Linked DNA regions of Homo sapiens. The protein of the gene in region 2 interacts with the protein of the main gene of each other region in a pairwise test. Each region holds a gene or a part of one and is shown on either strand. Other genes may lie near its edges.

Evidence for each region.
Region 1: the proteins of CFTR (region 2) and ETFA interact in binary tests that used the Homo sapiens proteins (3 or more experiments, as listed by UniProt).

Annotation. Positions count from the first base shown.
Region 1 is NC_000015.10:76,279,869-76,284,879, reverse strand, and holds part of ETFA (electron transfer flavoprotein subunit alpha, mitochondrial), read left to right. Parts: intron 1-1,054; coding exon 1,055-1,123; intron 1,124-5,011. UniProt on the Homo sapiens protein: Heterodimeric electron transfer flavoprotein that accepts electrons from several mitochondrial dehydrogenases, including acyl-CoA dehydrogenases, glutaryl-CoA and sarcosine dehydrogenase.
Region 2 is NC_000007.14:117,608,386-117,613,396, forward strand, and holds part of CFTR (cystic fibrosis transmembrane conductance regulator), read left to right. Parts: intron 1-2,133; coding exon 2,134-2,284; intron 2,285-3,195; coding exon 3,196-3,423; intron 3,424-5,011. UniProt on the Homo sapiens protein: Epithelial ion channel that plays an important role in the regulation of epithelial ion and water transport and fluid homeostasis. Mediates the transport of chloride ions across the cell membrane.

The DNA of each region.
Region 1 (5,011 bases), on a different chromosome or scaffold from region 2:
CTGCTCACCGCCACCTCCACCTCCCAGGTTCAAGCGATTCTCCTGCCTCAGCCTCCCGAGTAGCTGGGATTACAGGCATGTGCCACTACGCCCAGCGCGGTGACTCACACCTGTAATTCCAGCACTTTGGGAAGCCGAGGCGGGTGGATCACCCGAGGTCAAGTGTTCGAGACCAGCCTGGCCAACATAGTGAAACCCCGTCTCTATTAAAAATACAAAAAATTAGCTGGGCATGGTGGTGGATGCCAGTAGTCCCAGCTACTCAGGAGGGTGAGGCAGGAGAATTGCTTGAACCTGGGAGGCAGAGGTTGCAGTGAGCCGAGATCGCACCATTGCATTTCAGCCTGGGCAACAAGAGTGAAACTCCTCCTAAAAAATAAATAAATAAATAAATAAAAATAATAATTTTGTATTTTTAGTAGAGACGGAGGTTCTGCATGTTGGTCAGGCTGGTCTCGAAATCCTGACCTCAGGTGATCCGCCCACTTCAGCCTCCCAAAGTGTTGGGATTACAGGTGTGAGCCACCGAGCTGGGCCCTGACTTGTTTATTCACTTATTTATTCAAGAAATGTATATTGGTTATCTGTTCTATGACAGGCTTATTGCCAAGTGCTGGAGAAACAGATGAAAAGGCAGAATGTTCTTCCTCTCGAGGAGTTTAAAGTCCTTGAGATGACTCCCATTCAAATAATAACTTTATTCAGTCATTCAGAGAAATTTATTGAGCATCTATTATATGTAGAGTTTTGCTAAATATTGCAGATATGGCAGTGACCAAGATAGATATAGATCCTGAAATTAAAGAGTTTTTATTCTAGTGGGAAAAAAACTCATATTAATTACACAATTAGTTAACTAGGTAATCATAGTAGTGTTGAATGCTTTATAGAAGTATAGGAGTGTCAGAGGCCAGAAAAGGTTTATAGAGGAGGTGACATGCTTAATATGGCAGTTACATAATATGAAAATTTACTCCAGTATATAAAATAGCAAAATTGTTCCAGAATGTATTTGATGTTTGCCTAATTTTTTTTTTTCATCTTTTTAAATGAGGTCGAGGCTTGAAGAGTGGAGAGAACTTTAAGTTGTTATATGACTTGGCAGATCAACTACATGCTGCAGGTAAAGTTATTTTCCTTAGTAGAAAGATATTCCCTTTTTGTTGGAAATATTTTTTCTTCATTATTTCATTTTTGTGTAAGTCTTTCAGCCCTACAAATTATTTTACTTTTCCGGATTTTTCAGTTTTTCTCTCTGAACCAGTTTTTCTTAAGCCTCCAAGTAAATGGTATATAGCATTCAGTGAGGAGAAGGCCTCCTAGTATCTCTTACCTTTGCCTAATCTTAGTAGGTTTTCTTTTTTCTTCACTTTAAAAATAATGAAATGGGCCAGGCGCAGTGACACACACCTGTAATCCTAGCACTTTAGGTTGCTGAGGCAGGAGGACTGCTTGAGCCCAGGAATTTGAGACCAGCCCTAGCAATGTAGTGAGACCCCATCTCTACAAAACGTTTAAAAATTAGCCAGGCATATTGGTGTGTGCTTGTAGTCCCAGGTACTCAGGAGGCTGAGGTGGGAGGATTGCTTGAGCTTGAGAGGTGGAGGCGACAGTGCACTGTGGTCGTGCCACTGCATTCCAGTCTGGGCAACAGAGTGAGACCCTGTCTCAAAAATAATAAAAGACAAAATAATGAAATGTTAGTTTCAGTGCCTACTTCAGATTCAGGAATACCCTGGTTTTTCATCTTTTTTTTGGTGGTCTTAATATAACTCTTATACAAATAGAAATACATTTAAAGTTTTTAAGTTTGTAGTTAAAAATATAGAATTGTAGTTAACCATTTATAGGTAAGGTAGAACCTATTGCTAAAAGTACATTGATGAGAAGGGAGTGATGTTTTTTGAAAAACCAAAAAAATTTAAGCCAGGCACAGTAGCATGTGTCTGTAATCCCAGTTACTTGGGAGGCTGAGTTAGGAGGATTGCTTGAACCTAGGAATTTGAGACCAGCCTAGGCAACCTAATTGAGACCCTGTTTTGAAAAAAAATCTTTTTAAAGACATTTGATTATTTTTGAATTACACAATCACTACAATGAATATATATTAAAATGTCCCAATTCTGTCATCTCACCCTCCTTTTAAGACTTTAACATATAACTTTCGAGGGTTTTCCTGTAACTTTCTGTGGTTTTCCTGTGCGAAATTTCTATTACATAACACGTGTACCCATAGAAACAGTAATAGTTTTGTCAGAATAAAGGCATTATATTGACACTGTATAATCAGATGGTAGTATTTCAGGGTTTATTTTCATTCCTTCTTTCTTTGAACAAGTATTTATCAAGTGTCTGCCATATTCCAGGTACTATTTTAGGTGCTATTAGTTTATTTTGGCTACAGTAATAAGTTACTACAAACTTGGTGGCTTAAAGCAACAAAGTTTTTCTCTCACAGCTTTGGAGGCCAGAGATGTGTTGAAGTGTTAGCAGGGGCCATACTCCCTCTGGGGGCTCTAGGAGATAATCTGTTATTTTCCTCTTCCAGCTTCTGGTGGCTACTCTGATATCCCTGGGCTTGTGGCCACATCACTACAACCTCTGCCTCTGTCTTCATATCATCTTCTCTGTGGGACTGCATTCAGTCTCCTTCTGTGTCCCTCTTATAAGGATACATGGCAGGCGTGGTGGCTCATACCTGTAATGCCAGCACTTTGGGAGGCCAGGGTGGGCGGATCACCTGAGGTCCGGAGTTTGAGACTAGCCTGGCCAACGTGGTGAAACCCCATCTGTACCAAAAATATAAAAATTAGTTTGATGTGGTGGTGCACACCTGTAATCCCAGCTACTTGTGAGGCTGAGGCAGGAGAATTCCTTGAACCTAGAAGGCGGAGGTTGCAGTAAGCTGAGACTGTGCCACTGTACTCCAGCCTGGGTAACAGAGTGAGATGCCGTCTGGAAAAAAAAAAAAAAAAAAAAAAAGGATACGTGTAATGGCATTTAGGGCCCATGTAGATAATCCAGGATAAACTCCCTCTCAAGATCCTTAGCTTTATATATATCTGCTGCCACGTAGGTAATATTCACAGGTTCTGGGTATTAGGATGTGAATATATCATTGGAGGGGCCATTTTCTTGCCTACTACAGACACTTAACACCATAGATTAGTAAATAATATAATATGGGCCAGGCGTGGTGGCTTACGCCTGTAATCACCTGAGGTCAGGAGTTTGAGACCAGCCTGGCCAACATGGGGAAACCCCGTCTCTACTAAAAAATACAAAAATTAGCTGGGCGCAGTGATACGTGCCTATAGTCCCAGCTACTTGGGAGGCTAAGGCAGGAGAAACGCTTGAACCTGGGAGGCAGAGGTTGCAGTGAGCAGAAATCATGTCACTGCACCCTAGCCTGGGCAACAGGGCGAGACTCTGTCTCAAAAAAAAAAAAAAATGTTAGAGAGTCGTAAGTGTTAGGGAGACTAATAGGATGGGTTATGGGGGGTGGAGAATTGAAGGGAAAGATTGAAGTTTAAAATAAGATAGCCAGATTTGGCCTTAATGAGAAAGAGACATCTGGCTGGGTGTGGTGGCTCATGCCTGGAATCCCAGCACTTTGGGAGGCCAAGGCGGGCGGATCACTTGAGGCCAGGAGTTCAAGACCAGTCTGGCCCACGTGGTGAAACCCCGCCTCTACTAAAAATATAAAAATTAGCTAGGTGGGCGGATTTCTTGAGGCCAGGAATTCAAGACCAGCCTGGCCGACATGGTGAAACCCCACCTCTACTAAAAATACAAAAATTAGATGGGTATGGTGGCACGTACCTGTAGTCCTAGCTACTCAGGAGGCTGAGGCGGCAGGATCACTTGAACCATGAGGTGGAGGTTGCAGTGAGCTAAGATTGTGCCACTGTACTCCGGCCTGGGTGACAGAGACACTGTCTGAAAAAAAAAAAAAAAAAAAAGACATCTGAACAAAGGTTTGAAGGAGGTGAGGAAGCGACCCATGAGGAGATCTGAGGGAGAGTGTTCCAGACCAGAGCAACTAGTAAAGTGCACAGAGCCTGTCTAACGCAGGAACACATCTGGCCTATTTGACGAATAGGAAGGAGGCCAGTGTTGGAATGGAAAGTGCAAAAGAGAAAGTAGCAAGAGATAAAATTGGGAGGCAACACAAGACCAGATCACATAGGGCCTTATAGGACATTGTAGAGATTGCTCTTTCTCTGAATGAAATGGGGAACCATTTCAAGGTTTGAGCAGAAGAATGACATGATCTAACACATTTTTAAAGGATCACTTTGGCTGCAGTTTTGTGAATAAGCTGTAGGGGGTAAGTATAGTAATGGGGAGATCAATTAGCAGGCTATATCAGTCGTCTAGGTGGGAGATACTCATAGTTTGGACCAGGGTAGTTGCAGTTGATGTGGGGAGAAATTGTCAGTTTTGAGATATATATTTGAAGGTAGAGCCATCAGGATTTCCCGACAGATTGGATGTGGATTATGAGAGAAAGTATTTTTCCTGGCGAGTGGTAGGATGGAGTTACAGTTAGCTGAGATAAGGAATATCTCGAGTGAAGCAGTTTCCAGGGAGAGATCAGGAGTTCAGTTTTGGGCATATTAACCTTTGAGATGTCTAATAACAGACATCTGAGTAGACATGTCAGTTAAGCAGTTGGTATAGGAATGTGAAGTTCCATGGAGAAGTTTGGGCTAGAGGTACATATTTGAGAATCAGTTCATTTGGATGATATTGAAAGCCATGAGACTGGATGAAATTACCAAGGGAGGGAGTGTAGATAAAAAAAGAGGTCCCAGGCCAGGTGCAGTGGTGTGAGCCTGTAGTCCCTGCTACTCTGGAGGCTGAGGCAGGAGGATCTCTTGAGCCCAGGAGTTTGAGGCTGTATTGTGTTATGATTGTGCCTGTGAATAGCTACTGCATTACAGCCTGGGCAACAGAATGAGACTTTGTCTCTTAAGGAAAAAAAAAAAAAACTCAGGACTAAGCCATA
Region 2 (5,011 bases):
CTAGAGATGGGGTTTCACCACGTTGGCCAGGCTGGTCTTGAACTCCTGAACTCCTGACCTCAAGTGATCCACCTGCCTCAGCCTCTTAAAGAGCTGGAATTATAGGTGTGAGCCACTGCACCAGGCCCTGTTCAACTTTTAATGCTAAGATTCATTTGTTGTTGTTTCACAAGTGATTAGGCAGAGGTCTTTTATATTAATTTACCCATTTTATTTGTAAGAGAGTCTCATATTAAGGAAGCATAATATATGACAATCCAAATACAGTACAAATTTGGTTAATTTTGATTTTGTTAAATAATTAATCACAGGGGTCCTTCAAATTGTGAGCTCCTCTGGTTATACTTATGTTTTACCTCTGGTTATACTTAATTTCAAACAAATGAAATTTCATTCTATTCATGATATTTCAGAAGCAGATCTGTTGCACAAAATAAAGCATACCTATAAATTTTCTTTTTTTAAAAAAAAGTCTCTGTTCACTCTATTTTCTATTATTTTTCTCTTTTTAAAATTTGAATTTTATTGTGGCAAGTCCACTTAACATGAGATTTACCCTCTTAACAGATTTTTATGTGTAAAATACAATATTGTTCACCATGGGTAAATGTTGCACAGCAGATCTCTGGAACTTATTCATTTTGCACTACTGAAATTTTATACCTGTTGATTAGTATCTCCCCATTTCCCTCTCTCCCCTGTCCTGTTACCCATGGTTCTGTTCTTTGCTTCTTTGAGTTTGAGTATTTTGATACCTCATGTAATCTTCATTCTATTTTCTAACTTTGACAATGTTCTGACAAATTTGCTTTCCGGATTGGAGCACTGTATAGTGAAAATTGAAAATCTTGGTTATTTTCTACAGATTCCCACTATTTTACCTTGAGCAGACACTTATCTTGAAGGGTCTCAGATTTGTCACTTGTAGAATGGGGAATATAAACCTGATAATGGTCCCTTTCAGTTCTAAAGTTATATCAGTTGAAAATACATGTGTCACTTATGGTAACGGGTAGAGAACTGGCTCACTGAACAGCATATGGATATTATAAAGTGGTTTTTTTTAATCCTTTCTGCAGACAGTTACTTTATACTTTATTCAAATGGATTATTGTGAAGTACATGTTAGCGGACTTTGTACCTTTTAAAAATGTATGTATTTGGTGTAATGTAGAAATATAGAAATTTATTAAGTATGATTTATTTCAATGTTAAGCATGAGAAAATATGCTCCGAAAGGTTAGATAGCTTGCCTAAATGACAAGCTTGTATTTCAAGCAGAACTTTCTGAATCAAAAGACTCCAAGACGAATGCCCAGCTTTCAAAAACTGTCTAACCAAAATAAATCCTAAGATTCACCTTCATACTAAAATTATTTAAAAATAGTTTATTTTAAATTAATATTCACTTAAAATGTATTTATCATGCAATACTTTAAAGTGTCTGGGAAATGAAAATATCCAAAGATCAAAGAACACCATGTTTTCAAACTTCAAAAATGTTATCAGTGACCTAAACAATTTTTAAAATTTTCATAGAGCCTATGAAAAATGTACTTGCAAATGGCTACTTTCTGACTAGGAATAGAATGGGGAGAGTATTTAGTCCAACAATGATAGACTGGATTAAGAAAATGTGGCACATATACACCATGGAACACTATGCAGCCATAAAAAATGATGAGTTCATGTCCTTTGTAGGGACATGGATGAAATTGGAAAACATCATTCTCAGTAAACTATCGCAAGAACAAAAAACCAAACACCGCATATTCTCACTCATAGGTGGGAATTGAACAATGAGATCACATGGACACAGGAAGGGGAATATCACACTCTGGGGACTGTTGTGGGGTGGGGGGAGGGGGGAGGGATAGCACTGGGAGATATACCTAATGCTAGATGACGAGTTAGTGGGTGCAGTGCACCAGCATGGCACATGTATACATATGTAACTAACCTGCACAATGTGCACATGTACCCTAAAACTTAAAGTATAATAAAAAAAATAAAAAAAAGTTTGAGGTGTTTAAAGTATGCAAAAAAAAAAAAAGAAATAAATCACTGACACACTTTGTCCACTTTGCAATGTGAAAATGTTTACTCACCAACATGTTTTCTTTGATCTTACAGTTGTTATTAATTGTGATTGGAGCTATAGCAGTTGTCGCAGTTTTACAACCCTACATCTTTGTTGCAACAGTGCCAGTGATAGTGGCTTTTATTATGTTGAGAGCATATTTCCTCCAAACCTCACAGCAACTCAAACAACTGGAATCTGAAGGTATGACAGTGAATGTGCGATACTCATCTTGTAAAAAAGCTATAAGAGCTATTTGAGATTCTTTATTGTTAATCTACTTAAAAAAAATTCTGCTTTTAAACTTTTACATCATATAACAATAATTTTTTTCTACATGCATGTGTATATAAAAGGAAACTATATTACAAAGTACACATGGATTTTTTTTCTTAATTAATGACCATGTGACTTCATTTTGGTTTTAAAATAGGTATATAGAATCTTACCACAGTTGGTGTACAGGACATTCATTTATAATAAACTTATATCAGTCAAATTAAACAAGGATAGTGCTGCTATTACTAAAGGTTTCTCTGGGTTCCCAAATGATACTTGACCAAATTTGTCCCTTTGGCTTGTTGTCTTCAGACACCCTTTCTTCATGTGTTGGAGCTGCCATTTCGTGTGCCCCCAAACTCTACTTGAGCTGTTAGGGAATCACATTTTGCAGTGACAGCCTTAGTGTGGGTGCATTTTCAGGCAATACTTTTTCAGTATATTTCTGCTTTGTAGATTATTAGCTAAATCAAGTCACATAAACTTCCTTAATTTAGATACTTGAAAAAATTGTCTTAAAAGAAAATTTTTTTAGTAAGAATTAATTTAGAATTAGCCAGAAAACTCCCAGTGGTAGCCAAGAAAGAGGAATAAATATTGGTGGTAATTTTTTAAGTTCCCATCTCTGGTAGCCAAGTAAAAAAAGAGGGTAACTCATTAATAAAATAACAAATCATATCTATTCAAAGAATGGCACCAGTGTGAAAAAAAGCTTTTTAACCAATGACATTTGTGATATGATTATTCTAATTTAGTCTTTTTCAGGTACAAGATATTATGAAATTACATTTTGTGTTTATGTTATTTGCAATGTTTTCTATGGAAATATTTCACAGGCAGGAGTCCAATTTTCACTCATCTTGTTACAAGCTTAAAAGGACTATGGACACTTCGTGCCTTCGGACGGCAGCCTTACTTTGAAACTCTGTTCCACAAAGCTCTGAATTTACATACTGCCAACTGGTTCTTGTACCTGTCAACACTGCGCTGGTTCCAAATGAGAATAGAAATGATTTTTGTCATCTTCTTCATTGCTGTTACCTTCATTTCCATTTTAACAACAGGTACTATGAACTCATTAACTTTAGCTAAGCATTTAAGTAAAAAATTTTCAATGAATAAAATGCTGCATTCTATAGGTTATCAATTTTTGATATCTTTAGAGTTTAGTAATTAACAAATTTGTTGGTTTATTATTGAACAAGTGATTTCTTTGAATTTCCATTGTTTTATTGTTAAACAAATAATTTCCTTGAAATCGGATATATATATATATATGTATATATATATATATATATATATATATATACATATATATATATAGTATTATCCCTGTTTTCACAGTTTTAAAAACCGATGCACACAGATTGTCAGATAGCAATTCTGTGATTGAAGGGGAAATATGTCACCTCTTCATACTCATATTGGTGAAGGGTCCTAGCTTCAAAATTAATAGATTCCTAAAGAGGGGAAATGAAACATCCGCATTTACACACACACACACACACACACACACAGAGTTCCTCTTGTCGGTAAGTTTTGTTTTTTTTAAATCTCTACTAGATAAAATTTGTTATCTAATTGTGAGTTTTACACAAAGAAAAACTGTCACAGAAAAGAAAGACAGTGTCACATTTTTCAAAAGAAAAAGAAGAAAAGAAAGTGCCATGTTTTTCAAATACAAATGTTCTGGATTGATTTTAGGATCTTTAGTGAAAAACAAAGTATTTCATAATAAGTAAAATAAAAATCTATGTAGGTAAATTTGTTTCTCTAATTTAAGAATTTGAATTTCTGAGTATTTATGATAAGTGTTGAAATAACTTCTTATATGTGACAGTGAATACTGGCAGAGCAAATGCCAAATCAATGCCAAATCTGTAGGATCATTTGATTGTAGGAACAGAATTCTACTCAAACCGAAAGCAGGCATTTGCTGGAGTTACAGAAAGGCCTCATGGAACACCGAGAAGGTGGTGCCATTCGACTCTTAAAGAAGCTGCAACAGGCACAAGAGAGTCAGCTGCAGCTCTTCTTCTTGAGTCTATATCTGTCCTGGGTCCATTCCTTTTTGTGGTTGCTTCATTCCTTTCTCTCTCTGAAGACTGGTTTTTCTGGTCTACCAGGGCTATGCCACATTGACTTTATGTAGTGTCTCCATTCTGGCCTCCTGAATTTACAGGAGAGTTCCTCTGTACAAACTCAAAGTCCTGGAGAGAACAGAAAACAGCTTCCTTTTGGCTCAGGGGTCCAACTGCAGTCTACTCTGCTGCTATGAGGATAGTGGGTTCACCACCTTTGTTGTTCTCTCAGCTAGGGCAGTGGGAAATGACTCTATGAAAGGAATATACATGGGCAGGCAAATGTACTAATCCTCATCAGTACTGTAATTTTAAGCAACTTTAAAAAATTCTTTTAAGTTATTTGAAAATAAGATCAAAGAAGGCTGAATTACATAAATGAAGATTTGTTAACAATTAATTCAAACCAATATAACACATGCTATAACATGGTTGAGTGTGATTGAGTCTTGATTTATTAGGGGCAATAATCAAAACATTTAACAATCATTATAGTACAGAACTTACCAATCAAATCAGATGCTCAGCCGGAGTGGATGTTGGCCACCCAGCTATTATTATCCCTGGCTCA